2 separate regions of the Homo sapiens genome follow, and region 2 is linked to region 1. The links come from fine-mapping of genetic effects on gene expression. A gene starts in region 1. The other region holds a variant in brackets. All regions are shown on one strand. Distances are between the middles of the regions. Region 1 holds the start of OGFRL1 (opioid growth factor receptor like 1). Region 2 has its middle 43 kb from the start of OGFRL1.

What was found. PIP is the estimated chance that this variant, and not a neighbour inherited with it, causes the effect.
Region 2: its variant is fine-mapped to the expression of OGFRL1 in whole blood (TOPMed, PIP above 0.99).

What each region holds. Positions count from the first base shown.
Region 1 is chr6:71,287,053-71,289,777 of GRCh38, forward strand. It overlaps OGFRL1 (opioid growth factor receptor like 1), which reads left to right and starts at 1,759. Exons shown (of 7, transcript NM_024576.5): 1 at 1,759-2,118. The coding sequence starts at 1,885. The region is part of intron 3 of LOC124901339 (a long non-coding RNA gene); the gene reads right to left. RefSeq lists a silencer at 1,412-2,471.
Region 2 is chr6:71,243,941-71,246,960 of GRCh38, forward strand. No RefSeq gene overlaps it. Among named protein-coding and RNA genes, the nearest start is that of OGFRL1, 43 kb to the right of the region's middle. The variant G/A (reference allele first, on the strand shown) is at 1,732.

The DNA.
Region 1 (2,725 bases):
AATTTTTATATTTTTTTGTGGAGATGAGGTTTCGTCATGTTGGCCAGGCTGGTCTTGAACATCTGACCTCAGGTGATCTGCCCGCCTCGGCCTCCCAAAGTTCTGGGATTACAGGCGTGAGCCACCGCACCCGGCCCCAAAAGTCTTTTTGTGCACCCCGTGTCTATTTCTTATTAGTTTCAGAGCTTTTCCCAGTCATAGGATCACAGAAGGTCAGAGCTGGAAGGGCTCCCAGAGATCTGGTTTCATTTTACAAATGAGGAAGTTTAGGTTCATGTGACCTACTTAAAGTCAGAAACTGATTAGTGACAGAGCTACAGCCTAGATGTCTTGTTGCAGTGCATGAAGAGCTTAGGTAATCCTGATTTATCCATGGAATAGGCAGCTGGTTTACCTGATTCTTCCCTTAGAAACAGTCCATCTAACATGATTTGGCTTCCTACTTCATCATGAAACATTTGAAAAGAAACTATTCATTCCAAGTTCAACAGTTTAATCTTCAAATATCTAGCTCATCTTTCTTAGTCCATATTTAACAAATGTTTACTGAGCATCCACCAAGTTGACAGCACTGTAAATACAGACACACTTTCAGACGGGGGCTGCCTGCAAAGAGGCTTCCCTTCTAGTTAGAAAGCCAGAAGACACATTTTACAACAGTCACTTTTCTCTGGGTCACATATTTGATAATACTACCTTATCTTTACGTACTTCTATAGGCTTATGCCTGTAATCCCAGCTATTGGGAGGCTGAGGCAGGAGAATTGCTTGAAACCAGGAGGCGGAGGTTGCAGTGAGCCGAGATCGCGCCTCTGCACTGCAGCCTGGGCAACAGAGGGAGACTCTGTCTCAAAAAGAAAGAAAAGAAAGAACAGAACAACAGAACAGAACAGAACAGAACAGAACAGAACAGAACAGAACAGAACAGAACAGAACAGAAAAAAGAAAGAACTTCCCTAACACAGTTCTCCCTCCTCCTTTCATTTGCAGAACAGACCACAGGGCCGAGGCTTCTTCCATTAGAAACAGCCCATCTGTTCTACTGATTCTGAGATTTTTGCCTACACGGAGCACCAATTTGTAGTGGGTGTAAGGTTACCCGCAAATCAATGTGATGGTCCAGTTGTTACTGTTCCTTTTGTTTCACGAGCGATTGCTCATTAGATGAGGTGACTGATAGCTCTGACTTTTTCTAGACCACAAGGACTCTAGGTGGCTGCCCTAAGTACAGTTGTGGCAGCTGGGATTTCCTGTTTATATGGTGCCCGGCACCATCAGCTTTTGTCCTCTGCTGCAGCTAAAGTGTCTTCCTCCTGGACCAGGGAGAGGGGGAGGGGGTGTGGACAGGACCCGCCTGCTGACGGTGACACCTCTTCGACACCACGTCCACGCCAGTCCTCAGCTCCAGGAGCTGGGCGGGATCCCTCATCCCGCTCAGCTGGGAGATGCCCCGGGAGGGCGTCCCCCGGCTCCGGGCGGCGAGGGTAGTAGCCGACCCCAATCCACTCCGGGGGCCGCCGGGGGCCGCGTGAAGGCAGGTGTTCCGGGGAGAAACGTGGAAGGGAGGCGCGGCCTGGGGCCGGTGGCGCTCGGCTGGGGGCCGCAGTTGGCTCCCCTGGGGGCTCTGGGCGGCGGCAGCTCCCGCCTGTGGGGAGGAGAAGGAGCCGGATGGGCGGGTTCAGGCGCGCGCGGCGGCGGTCCCGGGGCCGCCGGCTCCTCCCCGCGAGGGTGCCTGTCCGCCGCTCGCCGCGCTGAGGCAGTGCGGGGCGGGCGCGCCTAGGCTGCCGCCCAGCGCCCTCGCCGCGGCCATGCCCGGGCCCTAGAGCGCCTGCCGCAGCTTGCGCCCCGCAGCCCCGCAGCCCCGCGCCCGCCGCCGCCTCTTCAATGGGCAACCTGCTCGGCGGGGTCAGCTTCCGCGAGCCCACCACCGTGGAGGACTGCGACTCCACCTGGCAGACCGACTCGGAGCCCGAGCCCGAAGAACCAGGGCCGGGCGGCGGCAGCGAGGGCCCGGGGCAGGAGTCCGAGCAGCCCGCGCAGCCCCCGGAGCAAGCCGGCGGGCGGCCCGGCGCCAGCCCCGCGCCGGACGAGGACGCCGAGGCGGCGGGCGCCGAGCAGGTACGCGGCCCAGCGGTGGCCTCGGGTCGGGCTGGGGCGCCCCGACACCCCAGAGGGGCAAGTGCCAAGCCGCCCTCGCGCTCGGAGGCCAGGGGCGCCAGGTGGCTGCTCGCCGCTGCGACCCGACCCCTCCGCGCCGCGGCTGACCTGTCTCCCGGTGGAGCCCGGGGGCCTGCAGGAGCCCAAAGCGCCGGACCCTCCCACTGCCGGCCTGGGGCCTGGCCGAGGGCACGGCGAGGAAGTCCCTCAAGGCAGAACCCAACTTGAATGGGTGTTTTCTTTGCCTCTGCAGAGCAGCTGGATTATGCGAAGGTGGGGTGGGAGGAACCTGTCTAAAAATAGAGGATTTTGACAACCCCTCTAGTGTGTGTTATTGGTAAAAAAAAAAAAAAAAAAAAAAAAAAAAAAAATTACTCAGAATAAGGTGGGGCTACAAGTGCAAGCAGCCAGCGCTCTCCCCTACAGTGGGGTCTAAGCCGTCAGAAGTGTAGGCCCTCATCTGAAGTTCATACGTCACTGTTCTGCCCAACTCAGGCCTTTCAACCTAGGATTCAGGGCATTCTTCACGAATCTTATTTCACCAGAAGACTTGTTGATCCAACTGTGT
Region 2 (3,020 bases), 43 kb before region 1:
TGCACCAAAATCTCAGAAACCTCCAATAAAGAACTTATTTACGTAACCAAACACCACCTGTCCCCCCAAAACCTATTGAAATTAAAAAATAATACTAAAATAAGGAATTTTTCCTCCAGATATGCTCACACATGGGCACAAAAATACTTATATAGAATGTTCATTTTAGCACTGTTAATAACAGCAAAGAGTGGGGGCACAAACAGAAGCATCAACTGGAAGATCTTAATCAAACTAAGATCTATAAAATGCAGTGTATAACCTCCAAGATATTTTGCTAAATGAGAGGAAAGGTGACATGGGATATATATGTACTATTCCCGCTATTAGGGTTTACATTGTGTTGGGGGGACAGTGGCAGGGTGCATGGGTGTAATACAAGTATCATTGCTTGTGTGTACATTAAGCATATCTTGAATTATACACAAGAAACTGTTTACCATTGGCAGCTTTTGGAGACGGAGGTTAGAGATTTTGAGACTGAAGTCAGAAGGAGAATTATTTTTCATTGTATATTTGTTTTCACTTAATTTTTTATGCAAACAGAATTTTCCACCCAAAAGAAACTAATTTTTAAACATAGTACAATATTGGATGATTAAATTAAAGAGACTCGTTTAGCTGCTCATATGAGAAGGATTGAGATATCCCTCAATCTTGCATGGTAGGCAGGACCCTTTTAGTGTAGTCTAGGGGCTTGTGAGAATGGAGCTGCCCAGGGCATGGTGGCTCGGAGTCACTTCAGAGATCCAGAGGACCCTCTGAGTATGGAAGGAAGACTTGGACTCACTAAACTTGTTGTTAACACAATTCGAATTTAAAACAACACCTGAAACCCATGTCTGTATTTCTTTCATATTTTATGGCTGTCTTCTCTAAACCCCACTATTTATTCAGTACCATCTCTAGCTTGCATTTGAGCTAAAATGTTGCTTAGACTTGTTAATTTTAAAACCAGCTTCTTGGTTTCTAAAATTCATGACATTTTCTTAATTCTCGTACAGAATACCTGCACTCCAGGTAATTTGCCTAGAGTGCATAGTTTTACAGACACTGTTTAAATGGTGCATGTTGAAAGCCTGGCAGAGAGGTTAGCTGGGAAAGATTATCTTGTGTCGTGGGTCTATTCAATACTCCAGATACTCCTAATGTCATCTCAAAGAGGCCTTTCCTGATACCGAATCTACACAAGGAAACCACCCTCCAGCCCCTTTAACTCCTGATAGCAGTGTTAATATTCTTCATAGCTCTTATCATAATTTGCGGTAATTTTATTTCTATATCTTTTTTACTTTATGTTCTGACTCCTTTACCAGAATGTAAGCTCCATGAGGGCAGGGATCATGGATATTTTGTTCACAAACATGTCCCAGTACCCAGCATAAGTGCTTATTAAATATTGAAATGGGAGGAGTGTTCCTTTATCCCCCTCGCCGGGTGTGCGCCAGGGGTGTGGCTCGCTTCTTTGGTGCTCCGCTGCTCAAACCACTAGGGGAAGCATGCAGACGGGCAGGTCACGGGGAGCGTTTTTGGGCTTCGACCCCATGGCAGCATCTAGGGTGAGTGTTTCCAGCTCGCGAAGCCCCAGTGGGCGTGTGTTACAGTGCGCTCTTTCCGTTTTGCGGTCTGTAGTTGGCTTGTGTTGATCAGCGCAACTAGACCCTCTGCCTTATCGAAAGGACACAGGGCCTTCTGTATCCCCGGTTCTTGCCCTAGTGTACCAGAAAAATC[G/A]GATCACATGTGGGCTTGGAGGATGGGTGCAAAGTTTTATTGAGTGGTGGAGGTTGCTCTCAGCGAGGTGGATGGGGAGCCAGAAGGAGGATGGGTTGGGAAGTTGGTCTCCCCCTGGAGTCGGGCCACCCAGCAGCCGGGCCACCCAGCAGCGGGACTCTCCTCTAACCACCCCAGCTGAATTCTGCCTTGTCCCGCCACCGATGGCCTGCCGATGTCTGCTGGTGTCTGTGTGTTTGCTTTTCTGCTCCTCTTGACGACCAGCCATTTGTGTCTGTGCCCGCTACGGTCTCTCGGGTTTTTATGGGCACAGGATTGGGGGTGTGGCAGGCCAAAAGGCAACTTTATGGGCACGGAAACAGAAATGCTTGTCCTCACTTAGGTCCATGGGCACAGGCCCGAGGGAGCCCTCCCCAGGGACCCCGCCTTTCTCTGCTTAGCACTTCCCTACCCGCCTCCTGTATCACTATGAATCAATGTCCTTGGATCAAGTCAGACTACACATTTAGAGAATGACTTTTTTGTCATTGCTTTTGTAGATACGTTTTTTCAATTGTTAGCCATGAGTTTTTATCTTAGGTTGTTTTCAGAATTAGCTATGCAAATTTAATTTCTCTATTTGCTGTGAAACAAATATTGAGGTTATTATTGGTTAAATCTTACTCCTATTGTCACCCAGGAGCTGTTTCTCACCAGGAAAATTTATTCTGACAAATATTTTGTGGGTACCCTAATTTCAGGTAATGATATTTAATGAATGTTTTATGATTTAAAAAGTTTCCCTCTTCATCAGGGCTAGGAGGAAGCTCTAGGGTATCTGCTCACACACAGCCGCTCTGCTGATGTTTATGGTTGCCATATGCTGCCCCTTCCTCTTTTGGTTCTGTTTTATTAATCTTATAATAAACATCTTCTCTTTCAATAATTCACCTCAAATACTTTTTGATAAGATATGATGCAAATACATTAAATTATGAAAATAAATTATATTTTTTCTATTTTTGTTAATTTTCCATTTCATTGGGTCTCTACGGCTAAGGTTTGAGTCCATGACATTTTTGGGTTTTGGCTCATTATGATCACCATCTGGTCTCTCTCTGCCCTTAATCTTTTCCCTATTTTCTCCTGTTTCCTCTCACCAAAATGCTGTCACCAAACACATCTTTCTTTCCCACTGAACTACTGTCACTGCCACCTCCTGTATCATGCACTGTCCCAGAAGATATTGCGCTAAGCCATAAGCAGTTTCCTCTTCAGCTTGTGCTTCCTTTGCTGTTTCTTCTTTGTCC